2 separate regions of the Homo sapiens genome follow, and region 2 is linked to region 1. The links come from fine-mapping of genetic effects on gene expression. A gene starts in region 1. The other region holds a variant in brackets. All regions are shown on one strand. Distances are between the middles of the regions.

Region 1 (8,327 bases):
CTGGGAGCAGTGGCTCATGCCTATAATCCCAGCACTTTGGGAGGCCGAGGCAGGTGGATCACTCAAGGTCAGGAGTTTGAGACCAGCCTGGCCAACATGGTGAAACCCTGTCTCTACTAAAAATACAAAAGTTAGCCAGGCCTGGTGGTGTGGACCTGTAATCCCAGCTACTCCAGAGGCTAAGGCATGAGAATCACTTGAACCTGGGAGGCAGAGGTTGCAGTGAGCTGAGATGGAGCCACTGCACTCCAACCTGGACGACAGAGTGAGACTCCACCTCAAAAAATAAAATGAGGTATGTGACTACATAAAAAAATTAATAAATAATGTATCAGGCCAGGCGTGGTGGCTCATGCCTGTAATCCCAGCGCTTTGGGAGGCTGAGCCGGGTGGATCACCTGAGGTCAGGAGTTCGAGACCAGCCTGGCCAACATGGCGAAACTCTGTCTCTACTAAAAATACAAAAAATTATCCGGGCCTGATGGCAGACGCCTGTAATCCCAGCTATTTGGGAGGCTGAGGCAGAAGAATTGCTTGAACCCGGGAGGCGGAGGTTGCAGTGAGCCGATATCACGCCATTGCACTCCAGCCTGGGTGATAGAGCAAGACTCTTGTCTCCAAAAAAAAAAAAAAAAATCAAGTATCAGCAAACCTTCTAAGGTTACATTTTATTCATTTTTATTATTATTTTTTTTTGAGATGGAGTCTCACCCTGTTGCCAGACTGGAGTGCAGTGGTGTGATCTCTGCTCACTGAAACCTCCGCCTCCCAGGTTTAAGCGATTCTCCTGCCTCAGCGTCTTGAGCAGCTGGGATAACAGGCATGCGCCACCATGCTCGACTAATTTTTGTATTTTTATTAGAGTTGGGGTTTCACCATGTTGGCCAGGATGGTCTCGATCTCTCAACCTTGTGATCTGCCCGCCTCGGCCTCCCAAAGTGCTGGGATTACAGGCGTGAGCCACTGTGCCTGGCCTATTTTTATTTTTTTAATGTTTAATTTTTGTGGGTTCATAGGAGGTATATATATTTATGGGGTACATGAGTTTTTTTGTTTTTTTTTTTTTGAGACAGAGTCTTGCTCTGTTGCCCAGGCTGGAGTGCAGTGGCACAGTCTCAGCTCACTGCAAGCTCTGCCTCCCGGGTTCATGCCATTCTCCTGCCTCAGCCTCCCCAGTAGCTGGGACTACAGGTGCCTGCCACCACGCCTGCCTAATTTTTTGTATTTTTAGTAGAGACGGGGTTTCACCATGTTAGCCAGGATGGTCTTGATCTCCTGACTTTGTGATCCGCCTGCCAAAGTGCTGGGATTACAGGTGTGAGCCACCATGCCCGGCCTCATGAGATGTTTTGATATAAGCATGCAATGCATAATAAAATCATATCATGGAGAATGGAGTATCCATCCCCTTAAGCATTTATCTTTTGTGTTAAAAACAATCCAATTACACTATTTTAGTTATTTTTAAATGTACAATTAAGTTATTATTTATAGTCACCCTGTTGTGCTACCAAATAGTAGGTCTTAAGGTCTTATTCTTTTTTTTTTTTTTTTTGTACCCATTAATCATCCCCACCTCCCTCCCTAAGGTTACTTTTTTTTGGTTGAGGGGAAAGGATCTTGCTATATCTCCCAGGCTGGAGTGCAGCCTTCACCCCCAGGGCTCAAGTGATCCTCCCACCTCAGCCTCCTGACTAGCTGGGACCACAGGTGCATGCCACGACTCCTGTCTAACTTTTTTTGTATTTTGTAGAGACAGTGTTTCAACATGTTGCCCAGGCTGGTCTCAAACTCCTAGGCTTAAGTGATCTGCCCACTGTGGCCTCCCAAAGTGCTGGGATTATAGGTGTAAGGTTACTTGTTTTTTTTTTTTTTTGAGTCAGAGTCTCACTCTGTTGCCCAGGCTGGAGTGCGTTGGTGCAATCTCGGCTCACTGCAACCTCCACCTCCAGGGTGCAAAAAGGTTCTCCTGCCTCAGACTCCGAAGTAGCTGGGATTACAGGCTCCCGCCACCACACTCAGCTAATTTTTGTATTTTTAGTAGAGACGTGGTTTCGCCATGTTGGCCAGGCTGATCTCGAACTCCTGACCTCAGGTGATCTGCCTGCCTTGGCCTCCCAAAGTGCTGAGATTACAGGCGTGAGCCACTGCGCCCCACCAGTTACATTTTAAAGAGAAAAAAAAGATGCTTATTGAAAGAACATTACTAACAACTGTCGAAATTGTGAAAGTGACAGCAAATCAGTAGAGTCAGTCAGTTGAGCCAGATAGCCTCTGAGTCTGTAGTTCTTTTTTTCTTTTTTTTTTGTCGCCCAGGCTGGAGTGCAGTGGCACAATCTCGGCTCACTGCAACCTCCGCCTCCCGGGTTCAAGCGATTCTCCTGCCTCAGCCTCCCCATTAGCTCGGATTACAGGCGCCTGCCACCACGTCCAGCTAATTTTTATATTTTTAGTAGAGACAGGGTTTCACTGTGTTGGCCAGGCTGGTCTTGAACTCCTGACCTTGTGATCCACCCGCCTCGGCCTCCCAAAGTGCTGGGATTACAAGTGTGAGCCACCGCGCCTGGCTGAGTCTATAGTTCTAAACAATCTTCAACACATAATAGAAAATGTGAAAGAGACAGACCCAGGTCCAAGAACGATCTGAACTTCTCCTGGAATTCATGATCAAGGTGGACAGCTAGAAGTATGTCAATGCCAGCAATTGTCCTCCTTTGGATTTAGCCCTCTAGGATTTTAATTTCCTTTTCTCTTGGATATTCTCTTATCTAAGGACAAGCCAGGCTCACCTTTCTTTTATTAAGTTACATATGCATAGCTGGCATATCACTTTCTTTGCCTTTCTTGGTTGGATTGGCATTTTCCCATGCACATATTTACATATATTTCTCACAATATATTTATATAAAATGAATTTCATCACTTTTTTATTGTTTGTTTTCCTCCTGTATTTGTGTTTGTTTTTTTCTTTTGAGACGGAGTTTTGCTGTTGTTGCCCAGGCTGGAGTGCAATGGTGTGATCTCGCCTCACTGCAACCTCTGCCTCCCAGGTTCAAGCAATTCTCGTGCCTCAGCCTCCAGAGTAGCAGGGATTACAGGTGTGTGCCACCACGCCCAGCGGATTTTGTATTTTTAGTAGAGACAGGGTTTCACCTTGTTGGCCAGACTGGTCTCAAACTACTGACCTCAAGTGATCCACCCGCCTCCCAAAGTGCTGGGAGCCACAGTGCCCTGCCCTCTGGTTTCTTTTATAATGAACACTTTAGGAATAAAAGCAACTACTCTTGCTTTGCTTGTGACTTTGTTTTGTTTTCTCCCTTTATGCCTCTCTCCTCTGAGACCTTCCCTTTCGGTCTGTTCCCGGATTAACATGCACAATCTGATGATGCCTGTCTTTCTACAGAAAGTATTTCTGTATAAATACTGGTTTACAAACCTACAGAACGCCTAGGAGTGCGAAGTAAGCACAGAAGTCTATCACTGGGAGGGAAAGAATAATCACAAGGGTTCCAATCCTAAACGGGAAGCCAAGGTAACAAGACCTAGCGTTTATTGAGCACTTACTATGTGCCAGGCAAGGTTCTAATGCCTTACAGTACATATTTACTAACCTATTTCGTCCCAACAGTCACTCTATTCAGACAGGTATTGCCCCAGATAAGAGAAACGGAACAGAAGCAGCTTGTCCAAGATCACACAGCAGAGCTGATTCCAGTGCCTGCGCTATATACTATTACATCCTCTTAGTCACTGAATTCTTCTGATTAATTTGGGAACATTTCCTGCCACAAACGAGTGAGTCAAGAGGTAGCTAAAGCATGGCACTGATTATTCAAATTGAGGTGCTCACCATGCTTCTAGAACCATGGATATGAGATGGCTTTACAGGCATGATCACTTTCAGACCCGCATTTTAGGAATGAGGAAACAGATTTTCGAGATGTTAATTTGCCCAAAGTCACCCAGCTAGCAAGCAGAAGAGCTGGGGCTGTTTGAATCCAAAGTCCACGGCACTCCTAACCGCTGCTCAACGCTGCCCCACAAGAACGTCCAGCTGGCAAGACCCGGGTGGGGCTCGTTGCTCTCCCCGCTTCACCTCCCTGCTTCACGGCCGGGGGTGTGCTGGCTAAGTTCGCTCATCTGCCAAGCTTCAGGACACAGACCTATGTGAGCAAGCGATAAACAAATGCAAATAAATGTAACTTTCCACATTAGCTAAAAATTCAGAGAACGTCAAGCCCAGGGAAATGGGACGGATCCCAGTTAGCCCGCGGCTCCAATCTGGTCCCCCCCCAACCCCGAGCCTCGCGGCGAGAAAGGAAGCGGCTCCGGATGGAGAGTAAAGTGACAATCGGAGAAGGGCAGGCTGCCTTTCCTCCCGGGGGAGCCAAGGGGACCTGCAGAGGGCGGTTTCTCTCCGCTTTTCCTGTCCCACCCCGTCGGCCTGCCCCCCACCCCCTCCGGCCTCTGCGCCAACCCCGCGCGCCACCCGCGGCTTCCTCCGCTCGGGGTCCTCGTTCGGCCTCTGCTGGCCTCCGCGACTCCGCGGTGCCCGCCCCCGTTGAGTTCAAAAGGACGCGCGGAGCGGCGCCGGCCCTTCACCAGCAGCCCGTCCGACTGGAAAGGTGAGCACGAGGGAAGGGCGGGGGCGCCGGAGAGCCGGGTCGCCCACATTCGCCGCAGCCACCTCGGCCGTGGCAGGAACCGAAACCCGGAGCGGCCGAAGCTCAGCGCTCCGCTGGGGCAGAGGGTCGCGGCGGCTGGGAACGCCGCTCCCCGACGCACCGGCCGCCCCCAGCGCAGCGCGCTCCGCGGGGTGCTGGTAACGCGGGGGGCTCGGGGCGGGGGCGGGGACGGGGGCGGGGCCGCGGGGCGAGGACCAACCCAGCCCGTCGCGTCCACCCCGCGTTCGCAGGGGCGTCGAGGATCTCCGGGGCGCGGGGCGCGGGCTGGGGCCCAGTGAGGCTTGGCAGGCTGTGCGCGGACCGCGCCCTGGACGGCGAAAGCAGGCCCGGAGGGGGCGGCCAGTCCGGCGTCCCAGCGTCCGAGGCGAGCCAGAAGGCGGCCCACGGCCGTCGCCTCCCGGTCCCGGCCCGGCTACTGCGCTGCGCCCACTCCGCTCTGGAGCCTGGGCGCGGGTCCTGACCTTCCCGGCCCTCTCCTGACACCTGGTGGATGGCGTCACCAGAACTCCTAGCTGTGGAACCCTAGGGTACCTGTTACCGCGCTTTGGCGAAACTGGGTTCGCTGCTGATTTGCGAACCTTTGCCTGACTTTCTCAGGCCTTGAGAGATCTAAGTAAATTTGGTGGCCCATTGAAAGGACCTGGAGAGAGCGTATGAAGGTAACACCCCGTCAAACTGCATGCGGCCTCAGACCTGCTCCTGTGGAGAGCTGTTGGTACCTGGAGCCTGAGGAGATATTCAGGGAAACCAGAAGAGGACAAGAGAAAAAGGGGAAGGGACTTGGGAGAACCTGGCACCAGAGGCTTTCCTGGGACTTCCAGGACTCAAAGCCATAGGGGCCCACCCGCTACATTCCTGTCTTTGCCCCTCTTCCTACAGATCTGCCTCTTCTCCAAGAAACTCAACCACTAGTGACAATGACCAGCCTCCTGACTACTCCTTCTCCAAGAGGTAGGTGAAGGCCTTTCCTAATCCCAGTGAGAAAGAATTGTTCAACATCCCCTTCCCCAGACCAGTCCTGGAAGCCTCAGCCCAGGTGGGAAGACTCCCACCTCTCTCTGCCTGCCTCACACAGGAAGGGCCTGGGAGGAAGCAGGAACTAGAGTGTGCCCCTTAGTACGGTTTTAATCTGAAGTCACATGGACATGGTGACTTCACAAATCTTTGTAACCTCGGTTTATCAAATAATTTTATGTCGGTAATCCCAGGACTTTGGGAGACTGAGACAGGAGGATCTCTTGAGGCTAGGTGTTTGAGACCTGCCTGGGGAACATAGTGAGACCCCATTGCTAATTCAAAAGAAAGAAAGAGGCCGGGCGTGGTGGCTCATGCTTGTAATGCCAGCAGTTTGGGAGGTCGAGGTGGGCGGATCATCTGAGGTCAGGAGTTTGAGACCAGCCTGGCCAACATGGTGAAACTCCATCTCTACTAAAAATACAAAAAAATTAGCCAGGCGTGGTGGTGCACGCCTGTAATCCCAACTACTCAGGAGGCTGAGGCATGGGAATCGCTTGAACCTGGGAAGCACAGGTGAGCCGAGATCGTGCCATTGCACTCCAGCCTGGGCAACAAAGTGAGACCGGTCTCAAAAAATAGGAAGGGAGGGAGGAAAGGAAAGGAAGGAAGGAAGGAAGGAAGGAAGATTATTGTATAAGCCTAAAGGAAGGGCTTTACATTCATCTGTCTAATAATTTATAGCTATGGCAAAGAATGTAGCAGAAACCCTTGTAATTAAATGTGGAAAAGGAATCTTCAAAGATAACAGGGAAATCATTTTTTAAAAACCTGCTAAAGATAGTATTGCTAACCTCTAAGCTCCGGTTTCATCATTCACAAAATAGGGAAAATAGTACCTATCTTATGATTTATGAAGATTAAATGAGACAACCCATATAAAACACCTAGAAGAGTGTGTAGTATCTCGTAAGCACTCAGTCACGTTGGTTATTAGCACTGAGTACTTGTTAGAAACCCATCTTTCCCTTGAAAGTGATTTTGCTGGCTTTCTCATTCCACTCCTCTGGTGATACAGACCCAGCATCAAAACCCCATTGTTCCCTGAAGGTGTGCGGAGGCCGGGCACTACTGCTCAGCACTCTGAGAATGGATGCCCACCTTTTAGTTCATCATCAGGCTGGGCCGGACAAACTATCAGTTATTTATTGACTGTTTTCAGCATGTGCTAGTTAGGGAGAGAGAGGAACAAACCCTTGGTTGGTCTATACACCTTTGTCTTCCTATACACAGTCACATTTGTCATTAGGACAGGCATTCTCTGCTTTTACTGATGTGGAAACAGGTGAGTGACACCACCAGTGGAAGTCTAAGACAGTGTCCTCTGTGACTGGTAATGCACACAATTCAGACTTTTAGTTGTCTGGTGAGAAGAGATAAAAGAGAGAAATGGCCAGGTATGGTGGCTCACGCCTGTAATTCCAGCACTCTGGGAGGTTGAGGCAGGCAGACTGAGCTCAGGAGTTCGAGATCAGCCTGGGCAACATGGCGAAACCCCATCTCTACAAAAAAATTTAAAAATTAGCCGGGCTTGGTGGTAGACACCTGTGGTTCCAGCTACTCCAAAGGCTTAGGTGGGAGGATCCCTTGAGCCCAGGAGATGGAGGTTGCAATGAGCCGAGATCATGCCACTGCACTCCGGCCTAGGTGACAGAGCAAGACCCTGTCTTAAAAAAAAAAAAAAAGAGTTAGGGGGACACGGAGTGGGGGGGGGGAATAGGTCAGCAAAGGCTTCATGGGTGGGTGAGGAAGGGGATCTGAGTCTTGCCCTTGAAAGACGGACAAGGTTCATACAGGCAAAGGGGCGCAGCAGGTATCTTAGAGAAACGTAGAATACCTTTTTCGTGTGTACCTGCTCTAGATAAAGGTAGAATACCTCATACCATGTGTGAAGCTACAGAGACGATTTACCCTGGAGGATGTTCAGGAAGCGGGTGGGCAGAGGACCTCCAGAATAATCCTGCCCACAAGGGAAAAAAGGTGATACCTTGGCAGCTAGCTGAGGGATTAGAACCTTGGCAAGGGGGAGCTGTTTACATTTTTTAAATTTTATTATTATTATTTTTGAGACCAAGTCTTGCTGTGTCACCCAGGCTGGAGTACAGTGGCTTAATTTCGGTTCACTGCAACCTCCGCCCCCTGGGTTCAAGCAATTCTCCCACCTTAGTCTCCCTAGTAGCTGGAATTACAGGCGTGCGCTACCACGCCTGGCTAATTTGTATACTTTTAGTGGAGACAGGGTTTCGCCATGTTGGCCAGGCTGGTCTCAAACTCCTGGCCTCAAGTGATCTGCCCTTCTCGGCCTCCCAAAGTGCTGGGATTACAGGCTCATGCCATTTTTTCTTTTTTAAAATTTATGGTAAAATAAACATAGTACAGGTATTACCATTTTAGCCATTTTTTCGCAGACAATTCAGTGGTAGAGTAGTCCCCGCTTATCCACAGGGGATTCATTCCAAAAACCCCAGTGGATGCCTGAAATCTCAGATAGTACTGAACCCCATCTATACTGTGTTTTTTCCTGTACATACATACTTATGATAAAGCTTAACTTGTAAATTAGGCACAGTAAGAGATTAACAATAATAATAAAATAGAACAACTATAACAATATACTGTAATAAGAGT
Region 2 (8,327 bases), 51 kb before region 1:
GCTGGAATGCAGTGGCACCATCAGGGCTCACTGCAGCCTCCACCTCCCTTGGCTCGGGTGATCCTCCCACCTCAGCCTCCCTGATAGCTGGGACTACAGGTGTGTGCCACCACGCCCAATTAATTTTTGTATTTTTAGCAGAGAGAAGGTCTTGCTATGTTGCGCAGGCTAGTCTCAAACTCCTGGGCTCAAGCAATCTGCCTGCCTCAGCCTCCTAAAGTGTTGGGATTACAGGTGTGAGCCGTGGTGCCCGGCCAGACTTCATTAAGCATCTTAAGGTCAGGGACTGCATTTTATTCATCCTTGTTTCAGAACACCCAGCAATGCCTGGTACACAGTTGACCTTGAGTGCAGTAATGATTGTTTTGGAGAAAGAAGAGGAACACAGTAGCATACAAGGGCCTCTAATTTTGTGTCAGGCCCTATCTTCCCCCTCCACTCCTTAGGAAGTGTTATTTTGACCTTCTTCCCTGCCTTGAGGAAATTTTAACCTGCACTGTAAAATCTGAGTACGTGGTTCCTCCACACCTAGTGTCCTAATCTCAAGCTATCCCCTCAAACAGGTCAGGGAGGAATTTTTTGGAGAACTTCTCCCTAAAGAAACAATAGTTGTCATCTCAACAGCCGCACCCCAATTTGCACAATCTGTGTCTGTGTTCACATTCTGCCTCCATCCAGTACACTGTACTCCAACTAGAAAAACTTGCTCCTCATGCTCAGCACGGGCGTCCATACTATCCTCCTCAGCCTTTTTTCAATGTGATCATTCTCTTGCCTAAGAACCAGCCCCCTACCCTGTTTCTATCTCCAGCTTAGTTGTTCCTCATTTATTTATTTATTTATTTATTTATTTATTTATTTATTTGAGACGAACTGTCGCTCTGTCGCCCAGGCTGGAATGCAGTGGCGCGATTTCGGCTCACTGCAACCTCTGCCTCCCGGGTTCAAACAATTCTCCTGCGTCATCCTCTCGAGTAGCTGGGACTGCAGGCGTGCGCCACCACACCCAGCTAATTTTTGTATTTTTAGTAGCGACGCGGTTTCACCGTATTGGTCAGGCTGATCTCCTAACCTCAGGCGATCCACCCGCCTCGGCCTCCCAAAGTGCTAGGATTACAGGCGTGAGCCACCGCGCCCGGCCTGTTTCTCTCTTTCAAGCCCGGCTCGGGTGTCCTGCCTGCTTTCTGCACTCTATCCCTACCAGTTCCAGGCTTAGAGCCTACCTGGAGCAAGAAACGCAGTGTACATGGCGGCTTCGCATGCATACTCAGAGAACCTAAACGTGTTTTCGATATGGTAGGTCCTCTCGCTGAGTGGAACCCACATCATTTTCTACCCTGCGGTGGCAGTTGCTTTGCAGTGCTCAGCGTGATGGGAACTGGCTTTCCGGAGCGAGTGAGTGTGGGCCCACCACTGAGGACCTGGTTCAGTGAGGCCGAGGTTTCGGGCAGGGGTTGGAGCTCGGAAGCTGGCCTCGAGCGAGCGCTGCCTGAGGGTAGGCCCCGGGCCCGCCCCTCCGAGCCGGCCTGCTCCAGCTGACAGTGGTGGGCTGAGGGGCGGGCCTCAGGGCTGGCCAGGGGCGGCCTGAGGTGGCTCAGGGCTGGGGCCGGATGCGAGGCATGCCGGGAGCCCGCACTTCCTCCTCGGGGGCCTCAGAAAACCACAGGGCGCGGGGCCAGGGCGGCGGCCCCCAGGGAGTTGGCAGGATGGCAGAGGGCAAGGCAGGCGGCGCGGCCGGCCTCTTCGCCAAGCAGGTGCAGAAGAAGTTTAGCAGGGCCCAGGAGAAGGTAGGTGGCCGGGCCTCGCTGTCTGTCTGGCCCACAGGGAGCCGAGGCCGAGGCCGAGCCCGGCCGGGCAGGAGGGGCGGGCAGGGTGCTCAGGGGCCCCGAAGGGTCTGGGCTGACGAGAAGGGTCTCCCGCTCTCCCAGGGAAACGGGAGCGAGGAGTGGGCTTCCATGAAAACTGGCAGATTGGAGAGAGGTCGGAGACCGCCACCCGATCTTGGGCAAGGATAAGGGAAGCTGGGGAGACAACAGTCTCTGGGCAGAACCTTCGACAACCCTCAGGCTGACCCAGAAAAGGTGAAAGAAAGGAAGTGATGGTGGTGGCCACCTTTGTATCAAATTTTGTGCTAGCAATCCAAAATTGGTATTTTACAGATGATGAAATTGGAGGGTAATTTTCCATAGAGGGCAATTTCCCCAAAAACAGCGATGCAGCGGATGCCAGCAGGCACCCCCCACCAAAGGCTTAGAATAATCCTGCATAGTTCTCCCCCTACCTGACCCTGCCTGGCCTCTGGGTGGTGTTTCAGCTGACGTAAGCAGGAGCCCAAATCTGCTTCTTCTACCCTCCCTTTGGCGTTGGGGAGTACACCTCCCAGGGTGATGAACCACATCTGTGTTCAGAGTGTGTCCTTGGTTAGTGTCAGGTAGCCCTGCTCCAGCACTGGCACTTAGGTGGGCTGCCCATCTATTACTTGCTTGGCAATCTAAATTGTGGGGACATTCTCTACACATTTTGATGGCATTTTTGTTTCTACCTGTACAGAATATTTTCTTTGCTTCTAACCTGAGCCTCTGCTCTCCACCTACCAACCCTCTAGTAGACAAGGCGGTTTGGGAAGACATGTCAGCCAGAAGAAAGAGCGAGGGAAGAAAGACAAGAAGGACCTGAGATAGAGTTTCGGTTTTCCTTTTTTTCTCTCTCTCTTTATTAAGCCCAACCTGCCTTCTACAACGGAGAAGTTTTGGTTTTCTAAGAGCTGATGGACTTAGAAGCATTTGGATGAACAGCTCTGCTTACCAACTGAAATATCCCTATTATCTTCTAAAAGTGGAGCACTGCTTTGAGCCCTGGGAAGGCTTAAAGGCAACCAGCTCTCCCGAGTTGATTTATCAGCAGAAAACTGATGGAATGTAGATGTAGCTCCTGACTTTAAGAGACCACAATGGAAGGGAGGTTATTTTCTATCATTTGAGGTCATGTGAAAGAGAGGAGGAAAAGGGAAAGAGTTCGTGTAGCCAGACTTCGTTACTTCACTTACCCTAACTTCACCTTGATCCTAGTTTCAGCCTCTCTGAAGACTTACAAATCTGGTAGACCCGAGAGCAGGGCCTATGGGAAGGTCTAGCTCGAAACAGTGTGGGCGAGCAGGAGGTACTGGAGAGAAGGCCACACTGTGGTTGAAAAAAAAAAAAACCCTAAAAGACAAAACACTCATGAATGATAGTAATTTTAAAAAGACATACCAGCCAGGCACAGTGGCTCACTCCTGTAATCCCAGCACTTTGGGAGGCCAAGGTGGGAGGACTGCTTGAGCCCAGGAGATCAAGACTGCAGTGAGCAGTGATCACACCACACCACACTCAAGCAGAGGGAGACTCTGTCTCAAAAAATAAAAATAAATACATAAAAATAAAAGACATACAATTGATTGTATTTCACTCTTGCATCTTCTGTCTTCATCTAGCCTCTCGTCAACACTAAAACCTTGCTTTGGGCTTTCACTCCTTTGTAAGCATAGACTCCAAACCTTGGCTAAATAATGTCCTGCTCTGGGCTTCAGATCTTGCACCTGTAAAATGAGAGGGTTGATGTTCTTGATGAAACTCAATATGGTAAGAACACTAAATTGAAAAGCTGTCACATTAGACTCAGAGTCAAATACTTCCCAAAGACAGAACCAGTCTCTCAGGTTCTTCTGGCCTGAACCCTGAGGAAGTAGAGAAAGAGGAGCAAACTCAAATCTGCCATGAGGAATTCCCAGCTGATGAAGAAAACAAGATATTCTGAACCTAGACTAGACAAAAGGGTAGGCAAAGGTTGAACTTCGATAAGGTGGGAATGGCCTGGGATGCCGGAAGGGAGCTCAGCTCCGTCAGCCTGAAGCCAGTCCTTGAGTCTTGGGAAGTTATTGAGACCAAGATAAAGAGGGAGAAATTTGCACTAAAATGAAAGAATTCCTTGCAACACTTTTTGCTTTTTCTGCAAGCAGTTGGATGTAATCTTCTGAGTAATAAGTAATAGCTAATGTGTCAAATAGTGAAATGTGTCAAATATCAAGCGCCTATTATGGACCAGAGACAGGGATATAAGAAAGTGATTATCAGCGGGGTGCAGTGGCTCACGCCTGTAATCCCAGCACTTTGGGAGGCCCAGGCAGGTGGATCTCCTGAGGTCGGGAGTTCGAGACCAGCCTGACCAACATGGAGAAACCCCGTCTCTACTAAAAATACAAAATCAGCCGGGTGTGGTGGCGCATGCCTGTAATCCCAGCTACTCAGGAGGCTGAGGCAGGAGAATCGCTTGAACCTGGGAGGCGGAGGTTGCCGTGAGCCGAGATCGCGCCATTGCACTCCAACTTGTGCAACAAGAGCAAAACTCTGTCTCAAAAAAAAAAAAGACAAAGTGATTCTCTCTCCCTTTATGGAGCCAACATTCTACCGATGTCATCTCCCTTCATCTATTCAACACTTTAAGCAGGTTATTAGCATCTCTGTTTTAGAAATAAGGAAACAAGGCTCAAAAGAGATTGGTAGGTAGCAGAAATATTACTGAAACCCAGGTGTCCTGCCTCTGAATCCTAACCTCACTCAGGCTGCTGCTTTACAACGTTCCTGATAAGCCACTCTCACATCTGTGCCTCCCCCACTTCCTGCTGATCCTCTCTCAGGAACAGAGCTCAGAAGTAGAAACACTTTTTGTTCAGGCATCCTCTGAAAAGCTGGGAGTGGAGGTCTGGTGACCATTAAACACAATAGGGATGAAACATTCTTGGTCTGTTTTCCATTTCCCGCCCAAACTCAACATGGGACTGAATTTAAGCTGGCTTTAGAGTGTGTGTGTGTGTGTTTGTGTGTGTGTGTGTGTTTTTAGTATGATACATCTTCTCATTTCCAACTATAGTACTGCTTTCACCATCTGTTTGTGATTTCTCTGTGGCAAACCTCTCAGATCCCCCTGAGAAGGGGCGTTGTTTACCACTCCTTTGTTGGTCTTCTCCTCTGTTGACATCTACTCAGCTTAAATCCCAGAGGGTTAAATTCCACAAATATTTACAGAAAAACTCCTTTGTTCAGGGTACTGGGCTGGACCCAGCAGGGAATTTAGGGGTAAGAGACATTCTTGCTTTGCCAAAAGCTTAAGATCTAGTTAAAAAAAAAAAA[A/T]AAAAAGAATAATGATAATAAAATAACTGACCTGAGAGATGCAGGTCTATTCAGAGGACAAAAGGATTGGGGAGAATCGAGAGGTTTTATAGTGGAGGCTGAATTTGAAATAGGAATTATGGGAGATTAGTAGTTTTTCAGACACGTGATCAGAGAGCATTCTAGCTGAGAAGTGCCAGCATAAGCAAGGCATGGAGACTGGAGTGAGAACTACAGCTCAGCTGGAGCACAGGGAGTGGTCAGAGCAAAGGCTGGAAAAAGTATATTAGGACCTTTTAAGGAAAGCTTACTTTATCATATATCCTAAAAATAAAGATTTCCGGCCAAGCGCCATGGCTCATGCCTGTAATCCCAACACTTTGGGAGGGCGAGGTGGGTAGATCACCTGAGGTCAGGAGTTCGAGACCAGGCTGGCCAATGTGGCGAAATCCCAGGAGTTCGAGACCAGGCTGGCCAATGTGGCGAAATCCCATCTCTACCAAAAAATACAAAAATTAGCCTAGTGGTGCACACCTGTAGTCCTGGCTGCTTGGAGGCTGAGGCAGGAGAATCGCTTGAATCTGGGAGGTGGAGGTTGCAGTGAGCTGAGATTGTGCCACTGCACTCCAGCCTGGGCAATAGAGCTAGACTCTGTCTCGAAAGTAAGAAAGAAAGAGAGGGAGAAAAGGAAGGAAGGAAGGAAAGAGAAAGATTTCCTACATAACCACAAAAATTTACTGCACCTAAGAAAAAATTTTAGCAAAATTTTATAATATCAAATATCCAGGCCCTATGCAAATTACCCCAATTGAGGGAATTAACTAAAATATAATAAATGATTATGGGAGAGGCAATGGTAGGGAACTATAGCCACCAAAGATATATGTAGTAATTTTTTTTAAAGCTCTATTTCCACCCCAACCCTGATCTACAGAAAAGTTATAAATAATCAATGAACACTGGAATATTTTTCATGCAGATTCACCAAGTGTTAACGTTTTGCCACATTTACTTTTTTGCCTTGCTCTTGCTCTTTCTCCTTAAATATCTATATTCTAATTTAGCTGCCAGGCCAGATAAATTGGGACAGAATTCTCAAAGCAGGATTTTAGGGATTAGCATTATATGGGTTTTCATTAGGAAGTGATCCAAAAGTAGAATTTATTCATTGTTTCAACAAACATCTGTTTAGCATCTGTACACCCTGTTCCCTCAAGGGTCTTTCGTTGGGAAGAACACCCATGACACAGTATAAGTGCCCTAACATGTACCTGTTGCTTATGGCAACAAATTACTTTGGCTCCAGAGTACTGGGGTATGTTTCAGGGTGGTAACACCTTTTCACTTTCAGAGTTGGAGGGTGAGGAAGTTTCTCTCAGTACCCCCCAACCCCCGACCCCACACTCTCCAAGCCTTTTGGCCTTGAGCCTTTTGGGGATTGGGGAGATTGGTCTGCCCCAGTCATCCCTTACACTGACTCTAGACTGAGTTTTCTCTTTTCTGTTTTTTCTGTCCTCTCCACCTAAGAAGAACCAAATTAGGGACAAAGGAAGGGAGGGGTAGCAGAAAGGAAGTTAAGAGCTGCACTTACCACTAACAAGGTGGTTTTGCAACTTTCTGGTAGAGAACAGTGTTTTGTTAGCTGAGAAGGGTGGAGCCAGGGAGGATGGCAGACTGCACATCCAGGGCTGGGTGGCAAGTGAGGTGCAGTTAGAGACGGACAAAAACAGATATGGCCAAACCAAACAGATATGGCCAAACCAAAAATATAAGCATTTACAGGCAAGGGAGCAAAACTAAACATAATGACAGTGAGTACCTATTGAGTGCTCTTTGTAGGGCAGCTCTGAGAAAGCAATTTACATGCAAAATATCATTTAATCCTCCTGACAACTCAAGGAGATAAATATTATCTAATGGGGGAAAGGGAGTTCTGTAAACCGAGGCTCAAAAGTTTTAATGACTTGCCTGAAGACTTACAGTCAGTAAGTAGAAAGGCCAAGATAGGAGCCCATATCTGTCTAACTCCAGAATGCTTGATCTTATCCACTACAGCAAGAGCTCCAGGAATGAGACACACCCCCGGATTAAGAATGGAGATACTGGTGGCCCAGTGGCTCACGCCTATAATTCCAACACTGGGAGGCTGAGGTGGGCAGATCACCTGAGGTCAGGAATTCAAGACCAGCCTGGCCAACATGGCGAAACCCTGTCTCTACTAAAAATACAAAAATTCGCCAGGCGTGGTGGTGGGCACCTGTAATCCCAGCTACTTGGGAGGCTGAGGCAGAAGAATGGCTTGAGCCGGTGAGGCAGAGGTTGCAGTGAGCTGAGATGGCATCACTGCACTCCAGCCTGGGCGACAGAGCAAGACTTGTCTCAAAAAAAAAAAAAAAAAAGAATGGAGATATGAATCAGAGTCTCTCCACAGAACCTGCCACACTCCCCAGATCTGGGCACTCTTGCATGGCATTCAAAGCCCTTCACAATGAAACTCCAGTCTCCCTTTCTAGCTTCATTCCCCACCACTCCCCATAACAGCCATGCTGAACCAGCTAGTGAAGCTGTGTACTCCTATGATTTTCCTGATGCTGTTGTCTCTAACTGGAATCCTCTTTCTGCTGTCACCCTTTATACTCTATTTCTTTTTTCTTTTTCTTTTTCTTTTTTTCTTGAGACGGAGTCTTGCTCTTTTGCCTAGGCCGGACTGCGGTGGCGCTATCTCGGGTCACTGCAAGCTCCGCCTCCCGGGTTCATGCCATTCTCCTGCCTCAGCCTCCTGAGTAGCTGGGATTACAGGCACCCACCACCACGCCTGGCTAATTTTTTGTGTTTTTAGTAGAGACGGGGTTTCATCGTGTTAGCCAAGATGGTCTCGATCTCCTGACCTCGTGATCCACCCGCCTCTGCCTCCCAAAGTGCTGGGATTACAGGCGTGAGCCACCGCTCCCGGCCTTTTTTTTCTTTTTTAATTTAATTTAATTTAATTTTTTGTTTTGTTTTTTGAGACAGAGTTTCGCTCTGTTGCCCAGGCTGGAGTGCAATGGCGCAATCTTGGCTCACTGCAACCCTTTAACCGATTCTCCTGCGTCAGCCTCCCAAGTAGCTGGGATTGCAGGCGTGCACCACCACACCCAGCTAATTTTTTTTGTATTTAGTAGAGATGGGGTTTCACCATGT

The links.
Region 2: its variant is fine-mapped to the expression of SMAGP in whole blood (INTERVAL, PIP above 0.99).

What each region holds. Positions count from the first base shown.
Region 1 is chr12:51,266,554-51,274,880 of GRCh38, reverse strand. SMAGP (small cell adhesion glycoprotein) reads left to right here and starts at 4,466. Exons shown (of 4, transcript NM_001031628.2): 1 at 4,466-4,625; 2 at 5,565-5,636. The coding sequence starts at 5,603. RefSeq lists silencers at 4,408-4,487, 4,528-5,197 and an enhancer at 4,292-4,792.
Region 2 is chr12:51,317,482-51,325,808 of GRCh38, reverse strand. BIN2 (bridging integrator 2) reads left to right here and starts at 1,635. Exons shown (of 13, transcript NM_016293.4): 1 at 1,635-1,787. The coding sequence starts at 1,707. It overlaps LOC105369767 (a long non-coding RNA gene), which reads left to right and starts at 1,801. Exons shown (of 2, transcript XR_944957.3): 1 at 1,801-2,081; 2 at 2,606-3,441. RefSeq lists silencers at 1,400-1,889, 4,870-5,164 and enhancers at 1,920-2,109, 6,415-6,584, 6,865-6,924. The variant A/T (reference allele first, on the strand shown) is at 5,169.